4 linked regions of the Homo sapiens genome follow. The protein of the gene in region 1 interacts with the protein of each later gene in a pairwise test. Each region holds a gene or a part of one and is shown in the gene's direction. Other genes may lie near its edges.

Region 1 (5,053 bases):
CAGAGAGGCAGCCTCCGCAGAGGGGTGGGTGCCGGGGTGTCTGGTGGCATGGTGACGGCTGCCGTGGCGGGCACTGTCTCCCAATAGTGGACATGACGTTCGAGGAGGAGGCACAGCTCCTGCAGTTGAAGGTGAAGTGTCTGAACAACCTGGCGGCCTCGCAGCTGAAGCTCGACCACTACCGCGCAGCCCTGCGCTCCTGCAGCCTTGTGCTGGAGCACCAGCCAGACAACATCAAGGCTCTCTTCCGCAAGGGCAAGGTAGGCCACACCGGGGTGCCAGGCCGGGTCACTCAGCCTGGGGTATACGGGGTGGTCCCCAACCCTGCATTTGAGAAAGGCATAGGTATATAAGCCAGCTGAGCTCTGTGGGGTGCAGGTGGAGAAACTGAGGCCCAGACGGGTGCAGGAGTGTGGCCTGGTCACAACAATTCATTGGCTGAGGCCAGAATTTGATCCTCGAGTCTTGGGTCCCCAACCTTTGGCCCAGTGTTTTTTGTTTGTTTGTTTGTTTGTTTCTTGAGACAGAGTCTCACTCTGTCACCCAGGCTGGAGTGCAGTGGTGTGATCTCAGCTCACCACCGCAACCTCCTCCTCCTGGGTTCAAGCGATTGTCCTGCCTCAACCTCCCAAGTAGCTGGGACTACAGGTGCGAGCCACCACACCCAGTTAATTTTTGTATTTTTAGTAGAGATGTGGTTAGCCATATTGGCCAGGCTGGTCTCGAACTCCTGACCTCAAGTGATCTGCCCGCCTCAGTCTCCCCATGTGCTGAGATTACAGGCCTGAGCCACCGTGCCCGGCTTGGCCCAGTGTTGAAACCTCCTCCCATAGAACCTCCATGGGTCCCAGTTTTCCTCAGAGTAAAGTGGAATCCTAGTCACAGCCCTTGGGGCCTTGAGTTGTCTGGTCTTCCCCCTCCTGCTATCACTTCTCCCACCTCACTTTCTGCTTCTCTCCATCCCACGTGGCATTCTCCCTTTCTGCTGTCTAGCCAGGCTCTCTCCACCTCAGGGCCTTTGCGTAGGCATTGCCGACTGTCTGAGATGTTCCTGACAGGCAGCACGTGGAGGTGACATGCCTCTTGTCCATCTACCTTACTCAAAGGTGGAGATTTGGTCTGTCTTGCTCACTGCCGGATCTCCAGCCTTGCAAACAGGGCCAGGTACATAGTAGGTGCTCAGTAAAAGTCCTGGCAGAGGCCAGGCACAATGGCTCATTCCTGTAATCCCAGCACTTGGGATTACAGGAGGCCAAGGCAGGAGGATCGCATGAGCCCAGACATTTGCGACGAGCCCAGGCAACATAGGGAGACCCCCTTCTCTACCCAAAATATACAAAAATTAGCTGGGTGTGGGGGCGCGGGCCTGTCGTCCCAGTTGCTCAGGAGGCTGAGGATGGCTTGAGCCCCGAAGGTCAAGGCTGCAGTGAGCCTTGATCACACCACTGCACTCCAGCCTTGGCAGCAGAGCAAGACCCTGTGTCAAAAACAAAACACGAGAACAGAAAAAAAAGTTCTGGCAGAACATAGGGGTGAATCTGGCTTGCACAGACTTGACCTTCATTCTCACCCCCTTTTCTGTTCATCCTCACAGCCTCACCCCTAGGTGGGGCTTTCAGGACCTTTTAGCAGTTAACGAAGGAAACTGAGGCACAGATACTGGCTCACCTGCTGTGTTTCTGAAAAGCCTGAGGTGGGGCTCCCTCCAGCTGGGATTTATTAAGGACATACTGTGTGCGGAGTTCTGCAGAGAAATATGAAGAGGGAGAAGATGCAGTTCCTGTTTTTGAAGGCTTTGTTCTCAACCTGGGGGTAGTATCCTCCTGGGGGCAGCAGGAGTGGCTGCTTGTGTAGCTTCATACAAGTTTGGACCTGCTGGTTGAAGGTGATAGAAACCCACTCAAACAGGTTCAAGCAGAAAGGAGGGATCGATAGCTCATGGAACTGCCAAGTTTGGATTAGCTGGCTTCAGGCATAGCTGGATCCAGGCACTCACAATATTGTGGGGATGCTGTTTCTCTGCTCTGACCTTCCCTCCTGGGCCGGCTCCTCTCTCAGGGTGACCATGATGCTCCCCCCTCCCCCCTGGAAAGTTACAGATTTCCATCTTCTACCCCCTCCTTTTTTTTTTTTTTTTGAGACAGAGTCTTGCTCTGTCACCCAGGCTGGAGTGCAGTGGCACGATCTTGGCTCACTGCAACCTCTGCCTCCTGGGTTCAAGCGAGCACATCCAGCCTTTTTTTGTATTTTTAGTATAGACGGGGTTTCACCATGTTGGCCAGGCTGGTCTTGAACTCCTGACCTCAAGTGATCCACCTGCCTTGACCTCCCAAAGTGCTGGGATTATAGGCGTGAGCCACTTCGCCCAGCTCCATCTTCTCCCCTTAGCAACCCATCTCCCATCAGCACCAGCATAGTGCAGGCTGGATCTCATTGACTCATTTGGGTCATGTGCCTGGTCCTGAATCATTCACTATGGCCAAAGCTTTGGAAACATCAGGGCCAGGTGTGGTGCCTCACGCCTGTAATCTCAGCACTTCAGGAGGCCAAGGTAGGAGGATCATTTGAGCCCAGGAATTCAAGACCAGTCTTGGCAGCATAGTGAGACCCCATTGCTACAAAAATTTAAAAAATAATTAAGGGCTGGGCGTGGTGGCTCACGCCTATAATCCCAGCACTTTGGGAGACCGAGGCAGGTGGATTGGTTGAGCCCAGGAGTTCGAAACCATCCTGGGGAACATGGCCCTGTCTCTAAAATAAAATAAATAAATAAGTAGGCCTGGAGCGGTGGCTCATGCCTGTAATACCAGCACTTTGGGAGGCTGAGGCAGGTGGATCACTTGAGGTCAGGAGTTTGAGACCAGCCTGGCCAACATGGTAAAACCCTGTCTCTACTAAAAATACAAAAATTAGCCGGTGGTGGTAGGTGCCTGTAATCCCAGTTACTCGGGAGGCTGAGGCAGGAGAATGGCGTGAACCCGGGAGGCAGAGCTTGCATTGAGCCAAGATCGTGCCACTGCACTCCAGCCTGGGCGAGAGTGAGACTCCATCTCAAAATAATAATAATAACAATAGTAATAATAATTTTATAAATAAATACATAAATAAATAATTCGTTGGACATGGTAGTACACGCCTGTAGTCCCAGCTCCTCGGGAGGCTGAGGCTGGAGGATTGTGTGAGCCTAGGAGTTTGAGGCTGCAGTGAGCTATGATCATGCCATTGCACTCCAGCCTGGGTGACCGATCAAGACCCTGTCTCTAAAGGAAAGAGAAAAAAAAAACAACAACCTCTGGAAGCATCCATTCGGCCTCTCGCCAGTGGAGGTGGTGAGGGAGGAGGCAGCGAGGTGGGTGCCTAGATCTGCAGCTGAGACAGGAAGGAGGAGCATGTTGCGGGGACCAATGCCAAGCTAAGTGTGCACTGATGGAGTTTGAGGGCTAGGAGAGCAGTTTGGGAGTGGCTGGAACCCAGGGATGTTGCCAGAGCTCCATTTGGCACTTGTATGAGTAGCCAGGAGCCTGGCTGTTTTTTTTGTTTGTTTGTTTGTTTTTGAGACGGAGTCTCGCTCTGTCGCCCAGGCTGGACTGCAGTGGCGTGATCTCGGCTCACTGCAAGTGCTGCCTCCTGGGTTCACGCCATTCTCCTGCCTCAGCCTCCCGAGTAGCTGGGACTACAGGCGCCCGCCACCATGCCCGGCTAATTTTTTTGTATTTTTTAGTAGAGACGGAGTTTCACCATGTTAGCCAGGATGGTCTTGACGTCCTGACCTCTTGATCCGCCTGCCTTGACCTCCCAAAGTGCTGGGATTACAGGTGTGAGCCACCGCGCCCAGCCTTTTTTTTTTTTTTTGAGATGGAGTCTCACTCTGTCGCCCAGGCTGGAGTGCAGTGGCACGATCTCGGCTCACTGCAAGCTCCGCCTCCCGGGTTCACGCCATTCTCCTGCCTCAGCCTCCCGAGTAGCTGGGACTATCAGGCGCCCGCCACCTCGCCCAGCTAATTTTTTTTGTATTTTTAGTAGATACAGGGTTTCACCGTCTTAGCCAGGATGGTCTTGATCTCCTGACCTTGTGATCCGCCCGCCTCGGCCTCCCAAAGTGCTGGGATTACAGGCATGAGCCACTGCGCCCGACCCTTTTTTTTTTTTCTTTTTTTAAGACAGGGTTGCACTCTGTCACCCAGACTGGGGTGCAGTGGTGTGATCTCGGCTCACTGCAACTTCTGCCCCCTGGTTCAAGCAATCCTCCCACCTCAGCCTCCTGAGTAGCTAGGACTACAGGTGCATGCCACCACGCCTGGCTAATTTTTGTATTTTTTGGTAGAGACGGGGTTTCTCCATGTTGGCCAGGCTGTTTTTATTTTATTTTATTTTTTGAGATGGAGTCTTGCTCTGTTGCTCAAGCTGGAGTGCAGTGACACCATCTTGGCTCACTGCAACCTCCTGGGCTGGATTTCTTGAAGGACAGGCCCAGGTATGGGTCCAGAGTGATGCCACCCCCTTCCCCTTACAGGTGCTGGCCCAGCAGGGGGAGTACAGTGAGGCCATCCCCATCCTGAGGGCAGCCCTGAAGCTGGAACCTTCCAACAAGGTGAGCAGGACAGGGGTGCCCTGGGACTTGCTCGGCTGGGAAGTCCCTCCTGCGGTCTGCCCCAGGTCTTTCTTGCTGTGGCTCTCTGTTGTGTTCCCACCTGGGCAGTGGCACGGAGTAGGTACCTGAAGGGTCCTGGTCAGCTTGTGAAGACCCTCATGACGGCCACACAGGCAGTCTGGGCTCTCACTCCTCCAGCAGCTGAGGGCACTGCCAGCCTGCTCCATGCCAGTGTCCTTGGCCTTCCTTCCAGAACCTTTTGTCTCCTGGCTACCTTGTGCTCTGCGCCATCAATTGGCTCCCTAGGAGGGATGGGGTCAGCAGCCCTGACTTTGCTAAGCCCAGAAAGGGGCAGATGGGACCCCTGTGTCCCAACAGTCCCACCACCCAAACAGCCTAGGGTCCCAGTAAGGCAGAGCGCCAGTGATGACAGGTTGGCCGCTGCGTGTTCTCAGCTTCCCC
Region 2 (4,209 bases), on another chromosome or scaffold:
CCTGTCATGCAAACCTGAATCTGGGGAGTGCTCCTCCCGTGGGGATGCAATCACCCTGATTTGTTCCAGGAAGGCTGTCTATAGGTGCATCAATGCTGCGTTCCTTTGGGAGAAGCCCCAGCTCTGTCTGCAGTGGCGTACCAGGGGGAACAAGGATCCCTTCTCTAAGACCCTTCACAATACCAGAGGCTGCCTGCCTATTGGGTAGAGGTGCAAACTTTCCCCCACTCTGCCCAGCACAGCAATTGTCTCTGCAATAGGAAACTTCCCACCAGTGAAAAGATCTGGGACTCAAGCCCTGCCATTCAGATTCTTTTGTTCCACAGGGTATTCCCTTGATGTGATGTTCTTCCCCTTCCTCTAGGAATGGGACTTCCTGGAAGCCAGACTACAGTGCTCTTCTGGGTCTAGCCACCCAGTGGGCCTACCAGACTCTGGGCTGGTGCTAGGGAATGTCTGCAAGGGATCCAGTGGTGTTACCTGTCTTCAAGACTCCCAGCAGTGAATACCAGCACCATCTCTGACAGAAGTGGGAGGGGAGTGATGCAAACTCTGCAAGATTCCTTGGTTGTAGATAGACTTAGAGTATTGACTTTCTCAAATGCTGGTTATAATTATAGTGAACTTATCACGTGGACAGACGCAGGACTTCTGGTTAGCCAGGGTGTTGTAAGCAGTGGTGATAGCTGAGAATATGCAGCCGTTTTCTCCTTCCTGGGTACAGTGCTATTCTGCCTAGAGGTGAGTTTTTGCCTGTCTCACAGAGTAGGCTGCAGCCTGCCACTTCTTTCAAAAGTTCTGTGGATTCTTTCAGCTTTCCTGTTCAGTTCCTGCATTCGTTCCTGGAGAAAAAAAAATTATAGTGTGAATCTCTACACGCTATTCTGTCCTTCCAGATGGGAGAGGCATGCTAATGCTGCCTCCAATCTGTTGTCTTGGGGGGAAAGAAAGCAATTTGTTTTTGTTTTTTTTTTTAATGGATTTGCTGGGTTTAGTAACCCAGAGGTCATTGGGAACCTTGGCGAAAGTTATTTCAGTGGAGCAGTAGGAAGGAAGCCAGTTGCAGTGTCTTTGTTGAGCAGCAGAGGGGAGGTGAGGAAGTGGAGAGAGCAGCTGTGGTGGCTGAAGGGTGCTAGGACAGAGGGAGCATGATAAAGCCATAAGTAAGATGTGGTAGAAGGGAAAGAGCCAGGACAGAGGGGAGAGAAAGCAGGATCCTCAAGGACCAGAGAGGCAGTGGGTCCCACAGTCAGGTGCGGGGATTCAACAGAAACAGAAGGAGGGACGCTTCTCACTCTGACCCCGGAAAGAAGGAAGAAACTGCGTGCGAGTTCAGACAAGTCCGTTGGCGGGGGCTGGGATGCCTGCATCTTCCTTGTTAAAAAAGGAAGTGCAGGTTCAAAACATTCAGAGACAGAAGGTGGATAGACAAATCTCCACCTTCAGACTGGTAGGCTCCTCCAGAAGCCATCAGACAGGAAGATGTGAAAATCCCCAGCACTCATCCCAGAATCACTAAGTGGCACCTGTCCTGGGCCAAAGTCCCAGGACAGACCTCATTGTTCCTCTGTGGGAATACCTCCCCAGGAGGGCATCCTGGATTTCCCCCTTGCAACCCAGGTCAGAAGTTTCATCGTCAAGGTTGTTTCATCTTTTTTTTCCTGTCTAACAGCTCTGACTACCACCCAACCTTGAGGCACAGTGAAGACATCGGTGGCCACTCCAATAACAGCAGGTAGGTGACTTGTTCAGTCTGAGATGCTGGCAACATATTTCTAATGGAAGAGATCTGGAAACTTCAGCCTCCTCTGAGGCCCCTGAGAACTGGGGTGATGAAGTGTAGAAGCTTAGAGCTAAAGACAACTAAGTCTTCACCTAGACAGTGTTGCACAAAAGAATTTTCTGCAATAATAGAAATGTCCTAGACCTGCCCTGCCCAGTATGGTAGCCACTAGTCACACGTGGCCACGGAGCACTTGAAATGTGACTAGTGTGACTGCGGATCTCAATTTTTATTTCATTTTATTTTATTTTATTTTTTCTTTTTTGAGACAGGCTCTCACTCCAATGCCCAGGCTGGAGTGCTGTGGCATGATCTTGGCTCATTGCAACCTCAACCTACAGGTCTAGGTGATTCTCCCACCTCAGCCTCCCAAGTAGCTGCAGCTACAGGCATGTGCCGCTACACTCAGCTAATTTTTTGGGTTTTGTTTGTTTGTTTGTTTTGTTTTTGTTTTTGTAAAGACAGGGTTTCGTCATGTTGCCCAGGCTGATCTCAAACTCCTGGGCTCAAGCGATCCGCCCACCTCGGCCTCCCAAAGTGCTGGGATTACAGGCATGGGCCACCTTGCCTGGCCTTTATTTTAATTAATTTTAATTTAAATAGCTACACATGGCTAGTAGCTAGCATGCTGAACAGAATAGAATTAGAAGAAGCTCCCGTTTTCCAAAGGCACACAACAAGGCCCAGAAAGAATGACTTCTCCAAGCAGGATTAGAAGCCAGGTTTTTGTTTTGTTTTTGTTTGAGACAGGGTTTTGCTCTGTCGCCCAGGCTGGAATGCAATGGCACAATCTCGGCTCACTGCAACTTCTGCCTCCCGAGTTCAAGCAATTCTTATGCCTCAGCCTCTGGAGTAGCTGGGATTACAGGCGTGCGCTGCCACGCCTGGCTAATTTTTGCATTTTTAATAGAGGCGGGGTTTCACCATGTTGGCCAGGCTGTTCTGTAACTCCTGGCCTCGAGTGATCCACTCACCTCAGCCTCCCAAAGTGCTGGGATTACAGGCATGAGCCACCGCACCAGAAGCCAGTTTTTTAATTCACTCCACCCTGCATATAACCGCAGTGATCTCCATGGAAATGAAATTGACCTAAGGAGCATGAAGAAGGAGGCTGACTGGGAAATGTCAAATCTGGGCTCCCCTCTCTACATCCTTTGTATCTGACTTTCTGGGACACAGGGAGGTACCTAATGGAGCTCAGAAACTTTAGGCTGGGATCCTGCTCCTTATTACAGTGAACAGGAGATAGGATTTGAGAGCAGATTTTTAGAAGTTTTTTAAACTGAAAACCTAGTTCAGCTGTGTCACTCTAGGTATGTTGCTTAACCTCTCAGAGTCTTCATTTCCTCTTCCAGAAAGTGCCTGCTTCGTGAGGTTATCCTGAGGATTAATTGATACAAATTCTGGAAAGCACTTTGCCCAGAAGCTAGAACCTGGTAGACACTCAACATTACAGCTAATATGACAATTAATATCCAGGTCAAAGTAAATTAGATGTCATCAAAGTCAGCCTTGAAAGCAGACCCACTGCCGACTGCTTTCCCTTGACTGGGGATGTAGTGAGAGAGGCAGCATGTTATCAGTGAATAAACTATTCCAGTAATAATGATCACAACAATAAAGGTTAACATTGTACTTTATGTATGTTTTACGTGATTTACAAGCAATCCCTCATTTCATCCTCACCACAACCCCATGAGTTGGATTCTGTATTGGCCCCATTTTACAGATGAGTAAACTGAGACTCAGAAAGGAAAAGTCACTTGCCCAGAATTGCTCAGCTAGCCCTGGTGTCATCTGCCTCTCTCCATATGTAATAAGCCTCTATCTGGTTTTAGCATCAACTGGCCAGGTGGCATTGCATTCTTCCCCAGCTTGGGAAAGAGAGGTGACAAAGACTAAGAAACATTTGCTGAACAGTTGGACTCAAAGATTCTTTCTTTGGGGTAGGCAGGCAATTTAAGTGCGTCTGCCACAGGGATTGAGTCCCCTCTGGGCCCTGGGATGCATGGAGCAAGAGATAGGGTAAGGAATAATGGAGGGGATTGAGGTGTTGTTCACTGGGGTGGGCACTTGTGAGACAGCAGAATTAGTGTTCATGGCTCTGCCTGGATTAATTCATTCATTTGTAATCAATAGCAAATTGATAAAATACATTCTTAGGGTCACTTAACATTGTTTTTAAAAATGCATTTGGACTTTGGTGGAATCTTCCCTTTTACCAAAAGGCTTTCTTTCCAAATTAGAGGGTCTTGGCTCCAAGGGTGGTAAGCTGCTGCAGAGTTGGTGTCCTCAGACCCAATGCCAAGTGTGCGAAACAAGAAAGAATATCAATACCCAGAGATGGACTTGTGGTCAGAGCAGATGGTTGGGGAGTGAGGGGAAAGACAAGAGGCAGGAGTGGGGCCAAGAAGTAGAGGCATCAG
Region 3 (3,180 bases), on another chromosome or scaffold:
TCTGTTCCACACTTTGTGTCCAAGCCCTAAGGACCAATAGCAGCGCTACAGTTGGGAATGTTTTTTGCAGCCCCTTCTCCATTTTGTCACTGTTTCCCATGCCTCCTCACAGTTGTCACTGTCATGATGTGGCCCCTTGCTGTGTACCACCGACTGTGGGATCGAGCATATGTGCGGCTGAAGCCAGCTCTGCAGCGGCTAGACTTCAGTGTCCGTGGCTACATGATGTCCAAGCAGAGAGAGAGACAATGTAAGTGTCATGGTGTCATTCTTTCCACTTACGCAATTTGGGGCGAAAAGGAGAAGCCCATAGGTCTGACATACTGGGTGGGTCCTCAAAAGTGGAAGTCGGGGGTAGTTGGTGGGGGTGAGGATTGATAGGTAAAAATGATATTCTGTTCTAGGGAAACCTGTGCAGGCTTGCCAGTTTTTATCATTTGTAATCCTAGGCTCCCGTTTTAAACCTATCTGATAAAAGCTCTTTCAAGTTGAATAAAAGCTAGACAGTGAAGATAAATTCCTAGTATTTGTGGTTTGTTTTTTTTTTTTTTTTTTTTTTGAGACAGGGTCTCATTCTGTTTCCCAGGCTGGAGTGCAGTGGCATGATCATGGCTCACTGCACCCTTGACCTCCCAGGCTCAAGTGATCCTTCTACTCAGCCCCGCCAAACCCTTCAGTAGCTGGGACTACAGGCATGTGTCACCACATCTATCTGATTTTTAAATTTTTTTGTAGAGATGGGGTCTCATGTTGCCCAGGCTGATCCTGAACTCCTGGGCTCAAGCGATCCTCCTGCCTTGGCGTTCCAAAGTGTTGGGATTACAGGTGTGAGCCACCGTGCTGAGCCCAGAGCAGATCCTTTCAACTCCTAAGCCTGGTCTCTTCACTAGTAAAAGCTGCCTCCCAAAGGTGATTAAAAACTGCTGCCTCAGAGGTTGTAAGTGTACTAGCCTGAGATCCATGCAACACAATGATGGTAGTACAAACTTTTCCCTCCCTTGTGTGGTCTTGTCAGGTTTTGTGTTTTATGGAGGCCTGGCCTTCAAAGAGCCCTGCACTTGGTCACCAAGGCCCAAGTCCCCTTGGGGCAGCCAGTTGAATAATACCAGTCCTCAAAAGTCTGATTTAACAAGGTGTGCATCTCCTTTTGCCCTCTCTTTGATCATGTCCACTTAACACCTTGACATTAGGTCTGCCTTTAGCCATCCAGAGAGTTGTTGACAAAGCCTGGTATTTGATCATCTGACCAGAATAGAAATGTGTGCCAGGCCGGGCGCAGTGGCTCACACTTGTAATCCCAGCACTTTTGGAGGCTGAGGTGGGCGGATCACCTTAGGTCAGGAGTTCGAGACCAGCTTGACCAATATGATGAAACCCCGTCTCTACTAAAAATACAAATATTAGCCAGGTGTGATGGTGAGCACCTGTAATCTCAGCTACTCAGGAGGCTGAGACAGGAGTATTGCTTGAATCCAAGAGGCAGAGGTTGCAGTGAGCCGAGATCGCGCCATTGCACTCCAGCCTGGGCAACAAGAACAAAACTCCATCTCAAAAGAAAAAAGAAATATGTAGGGTCTGGTGGAGAGGATGTTGGAAGCTGAGATATTTTCTCCAGTGTTTTCAACTCACCTTGCATTTAGGCTCAGCAGCTCAGCCTTCTGTTATTATTATGTAGGCTTAGAGCCAGATTCAGAGAGGCTCTTTGTTTTGTGTTCTGATTTTATGTCTTTAAAGTCCAAAGGGGATTTTACGCTGGGAGAAGGTATCAAGCAAGACTTTGTGCTCTTCCCACAGTACGCCGCAGAGCTCTCCACCCAGAACGAGCCATGGACAACCACAGTGACAGCGAAGAGGAGCTTGCTGCCTTCTGTCCTCAGGTATCTTGAGTGTGGGAGCTGCTTCACTGTCCAGTTTTCTTTAGCTACCTTTTAACCATCCGACAGCTCACATTTAGGCCATAACCAGGTTTGAGGCCTTAGACTCCCCTTGTTCCCAAGACAAGGAGAGAAGTGAGACTTTGTTCCTAGATCTCAATTTTTTTCTTTATCATATCATTCCTGTAATCAACCTAGGTCTCAATTAGAGCCTGATGCCCAGCACCGCTCTTCCGTATCTCTTTTTACCCTACCATTATGGAAGAACTTCTGGAGCTAGTATGATCATCTTTTAAACAGCCCAGTTCACCCTTGGGTCTGTGCAGTATGTGTATCCTCCTACCACTTTGAAAAATTATCTCTGGATCAATTATTTGCCTTAAAGTAAGTGGGTAATTGACTCCCCCAAGACTGCTTTTCTTCCTGTGCTTAAGAGGTTATGAATGAGTGTTTTCTTTGGGAGAGCAGCCTAAAAGGGGTCAAGATTTTTTTTGTTGTTGTTACTTTCACATGTATTGATTAAAAAAAAAATAAAGGGGAGAGGGAGTTTTCAACGGGAAGTTACCATCTATCCCTGGTTACATTGATTTGATGGCCTTCGGATAACTAATGCTAGCTGATTAGTAAAGCTGTACCTGGTGACTACACCTGGTTCCTGATGGCATTATCTCACATTTGTTGGTCTTTTCCTAAGCTGGACGATTCTACTGTTGCCAGGGAATTGGCCATCACAGACTCTGAGCACTCAGACGCTGAAGTCTCCTGTACAGACAATGGCACATTCAATCTTTCAAGGGGCCAAACACCTCTAACGGAAGGCTCTGAAGGTGAGGGGAGCCTTTGACCTCAGTTGATAATGGCTCTGACTGTTGCCTCTTAGCTTCCCTGAACAGAGGGGATACTGGTGCTTGCCCCTCTCCTGTTTTCTGAGCTATGGATCAGGCGGCAGAGCAGCCTGAGTGCTGTGGCTACAGCCAGGATGGCACTGCTGCCCTTCTTGAAGACTTTAGTCCCTTAGTAGCCTCAGGCACTAGCCTCACAGGGGACATAGAAGAGAGGGGGAATTGTGTAGAGATCACAGCCACCTATAAGTGGAGGGGAAAGGTATACCAGTCCCATGGGTTTATTTCGCCCTGAGAAAGCCAGGGTGGGAAAAATCTGGTCATGTGGGGCTGGGGCACAGGAGGGCCAGGTAGGTGCCATGACTCAGACACTTCTGTATTCCACCAGACCTAGATGGTCACAGTGATCCAGAGGAATCCTTTGCCAGAGACCTTCCAGACTTCCCTTCCATTAATATGGATCC
Region 4 (3,500 bases), on another chromosome or scaffold:
GAGATGAAGTCTTCCTGTTTCCCAAGCTGGTCTCAAACTCCTGGGCTCAAATGATCCTCCTGTCTCAGCCTCCCAGTGCTGGGATTATAGGTTAGAGCCATGATGCTTGGCCTGACAACTTTTTTCTACCTTATTTGGCAAAGAGATATATTGACCAGAAAAAGATACTGGCAGAGAGATGTCATAATCTGAAAAATAAAAGAGAATCAAGTATTTACTCCAAGAGATCATTTCCTTCTAGAAAAGGGAGGTGTGTCGCCGGGCACGGTGGCTCACACCTGTAATCCCAGCACTTTGGGAGGCTGACGTGGGCGGATCACAAGGTCAAGAGATCAAGACCATCCTGGCCAACATGGTGAAATCCTGTCTCTATAAAAATATAAAAGTTAGCTGGGCATGGTGGCAGGCGCCTGTAGTCCCAGCTACTCAGGAGGCTGAGGCAGGAGAATCGCTTGAACCTGGGAGGCGGAGGTTGCAGTGAGCTGAGATCGTGCCACTGCACTCCAGCCTGGCGACAGACTGCACTCCAGCCTGGCGACAGAGCGAGACTCCATTTCCAAAAAAAAAAAAAGGAGGTGTATGTTAGCTGTTTGCGTTGCTGTAAAGGAATACCTGAGAATACCTGAGACTGGGGAATTTATCAAGAAAAGTGGTTCTTTAGGCTGTACAGGAAGCTTAGCACCAGCATCTGTTTCTGGTGAGGGCCTCAGAAAGCTTGCAATCAGGACAGAAGGCGAAGGGGAAGCAGCTTATCACGTGTTGGGGAGGGAGCAAGAGAGAGAGGGGAGGAGGTGCCAGGCTCCTTTTAGCAATGAGATCTTGGCCGCGTGCGGTGGATCACTTAAGGTCAGCAGTTGGAGACCAGCGTGGCCAACATAGTGAAACCCCATCTCTACTAAAAATACAAAAATTAGCCGGGTGTGATGGTGCATACCTGTAGTCCTAGCTACCTGGGAGGCTGAGACAGGAGAATTGTTTGAAACTGGGAGGCGCCACTGCACTCCACCCTGGGTGACAGAGTGAGACTCTGTCTCAAAAACAAACAATAAACAAAACCAATCAGATCTTGTGGTAACTAATGGAGCGAGGACTCACTCATTACTGTGAGAAGGACACCAAACAATTGAGAAGAGATCAGCCCCCATGACCCAAACAGCTGCCACTAGACCCCACCTCCAACACTGGGGGTCACATTTCAACATGAGATTTGGAGGAGACAGATATCCAAATGCTATCTGCCTTAAAAACAAATTGGATAGTTTGGTTTTCTATTCTGTGGAAGAATTTGTGTAAGATTGGTAATACAGTTCTAGAACTTTATAGTTCTTGGCCTTTTGGAGATTAATTCTAGAACAGCGTAGGTTTTCTGTTTGATTTTTAGTTCTGTCAGTTTCAGTAAGTTGTGTTTTGTTGGGAATTTGCCCATTTTATCTAAAATGTCAAATTAGTTGGCATAAAGCTGTGAATAATGACCTCGTAGGCTCTTTTCACCTTCTGTAGGGATTCTTGGTGTGCATTTCCTTTTTTTTTTTTTTGAGACGGAGTTTCACTGTTGTTGCCCAGGCTGGAGTGCAATGGTGTGATCTTGGCTCACTACAGCCTCTGCCTGCCGGGTTCAAGCGATTCTCCTGCCTCAGCCTCCCATGTAGCTGGGATTACAGGCTTGTGCCACCATGCCCGGATAATTTTGTATTTTTAGTAGAGATGGGGTTGCACCATGTTGGCCAGGCTGGTCTTGAACTCCTGACCTCAGGCGATCCACCTGCCTTGGCCTCCCAAAGTGCTGGAATTACAGGCGTGAGCCACTGCGCCTGGCCCTTTTTTTTTTTTTTTTTAAGAGGTGAGGCCTCACTCTGTCATCCAGGCTGGAGTGCGGTGGCGCACAATCATAGCTTGCTGTAACCTTAAACTCCTGGGTTCAAATGATCCTCCTGCCTCAGCCTCCCTAGTAGCAAGGACTATAGGCACGTGGCACTATGCCTGGCTAGTTTTTAAATTTTTTTGTAGAGATTGGGTCTCACTGTGTTGTCCAGGCTTGTCTTGAACTCCTGGCCTCAAGTAATCCTCCAGCCTCAGCCTCTCAGAGTGCTGGGATTATAGGCATGAGCCACCATGCCTGGCTGGTACTCTGCATTGATAACTTGTGCTTTGTCTTTCAAAAAATATTTAATTTTGTAGGATCTTCTGGATAAATATTCACAAATATTGCACGTGTTGATAATTTTATATCTTATTTTGATGTTAAATGAACTAGAATATCCAGGAAAGTATTCAATGGTAATGGTAAAAGTGCATACAACCTCCTCTACGTAACAGGAATACATTAATTTTTTCTTACTGTTAGGTATCCTTTTGGCTGTATACACGTAAACATGCTTTATTACCCTATGGAAGCATTTTTGAAATTTCTCAGTTTCAGCTGGACGCGGTGGCTTACGCCTATAATCCCAGCACTTTTGGAGGCTGAGGCAGGCGGATCACGAGGTCAGGAGATTGAGACCATCCTGGCTGACGCGGTGAAACCCTGTCTCTACTAAAAATACAAAAAATTAGCCAGGCGTGGTGGTGGGCGCCTGTAGTCCCAGCTACTTGGGAGGCTGAGGCAGGAGAATGGCGTGAATCTGGGAGGTGGACCACGCTTGCAGTGAGCAGAGATCGTGCCACTGCACTCCAGCCTGGGCGACAGAGCGAGACTCTTTCTCAAAAAAAAAAAAGAAATTTCTCAGTTTCTTACATGTGTTCTCTCTTCCCCTTTTCCTCTTCCCTTCCTCCAGTTCAGCATGTCATAGAACTTTCACAAGTGGTTATGAAATCTTAGATATGCTATGGAGAAAGAGGTTATGGCATAGCAAGAGCATTGTTCTGTGAGAATTGGAGAGAAATCTATTCTTAATGTGTATTTATTTATTTATTTTTGAGACAAGAGTCTTACTGTTTCATCCAGGCTGGAGTGCAGTGGTGTGATTATGGCTCAGTGCACCCGGGAACTCCAGGGCTCAAGTGATCTTCCTGCCTCAGCCTCCTGGTAGCTGGGACTACACGTACGTCCCATCATGCCTGGCTAATTTTTAAATTTTTATTTGTAGAGATGTGCTCTTGCTTTGTTGTCCAGGCTGGTCTCGAACTCCTGGCTTCAAAGAATCCTCCTGCCTTGGCCTCCCAAAGCATTGGGATTGCAGGTGTGAGCCACTGTGCCCAGCATTAGTCTGACTTTTTTATAGTTAGCTTTGTATTTGCTTGTCTTTTTTAAACAACCTTATTCAGTTTAATTGACATAAAATAAACTGTGTGTTTGGAGTGCACAGTTTTGTGTTGTGACATATCTATACACCTGTGAAACCATTATCATAATCAAGATAGTAAACATATTCATCACCCTCAAATGTTTCTTTTTACCTCCCTCTACACCTCCATTTCCAGGCGATAATTTATCTACTCTGTCACTATATATTGGCTTGAATTTTCTTCCCCCTTTTTTTTTTTTTGAGATGGAGTTTCAC

Evidence for each region.
Region 2: the proteins of FKBP8 (region 1) and CXCR2 interact in binary tests that used the Homo sapiens proteins (3 or more experiments, as listed by UniProt).
Region 3: the proteins of FKBP8 (region 1) and RETREG3 interact in binary tests that used the Homo sapiens proteins (3 or more experiments, as listed by UniProt).
Region 4: the proteins of FKBP8 (region 1) and SLC71A2 interact in binary tests that used the Homo sapiens proteins (3 or more experiments, as listed by UniProt).

The regions. Positions count from the first base shown.
Region 1 is NC_000019.10:18,532,808-18,537,860, reverse strand, and holds part of FKBP8 (peptidyl-prolyl cis-trans isomerase FKBP8), read left to right. Parts: intron 1-87; coding exon 88-260; intron 261-4,513; coding exon 4,514-4,591; intron 4,592-5,053. UniProt on the Homo sapiens protein: Constitutively inactive PPiase, which becomes active when bound to calmodulin and calcium. Seems to act as a chaperone for BCL2, targets it to the mitochondria and modulates its phosphorylation state.
Region 2 is NC_000002.12:218,124,619-218,128,827, forward strand, and holds the start of CXCR2 (C-X-C chemokine receptor type 2), read left to right. Parts: upstream 1-1,409; 5' UTR 1,410-1,735; intron 1,736-4,209. UniProt on the Homo sapiens protein: Receptor for interleukin-8 which is a powerful neutrophil chemotactic factor. Binding of IL-8 to the receptor causes activation of neutrophils. This response is mediated via a G-protein that activates a phosphatidylinositol-calcium second messenger system.
Region 3 is NC_000017.11:42,582,195-42,585,374, reverse strand, and holds part of RETREG3 (reticulophagy regulator 3), read left to right. Parts: intron 1-112; coding exon 113-250; intron 251-1,794; coding exon 1,795-1,877; intron 1,878-2,568; coding exon 2,569-2,701; intron 2,702-3,104; coding exon 3,105-3,180. UniProt on the Homo sapiens protein: Endoplasmic reticulum (ER)-anchored autophagy regulator which exists in an inactive state under basal conditions but is activated following cellular stress.
Region 4 is NC_000009.12:94,377,569-94,381,068, forward strand, and holds part of SLC71A2 (hippocampus abundant transcript-like protein 1), read left to right. Parts: intron 1-3,500.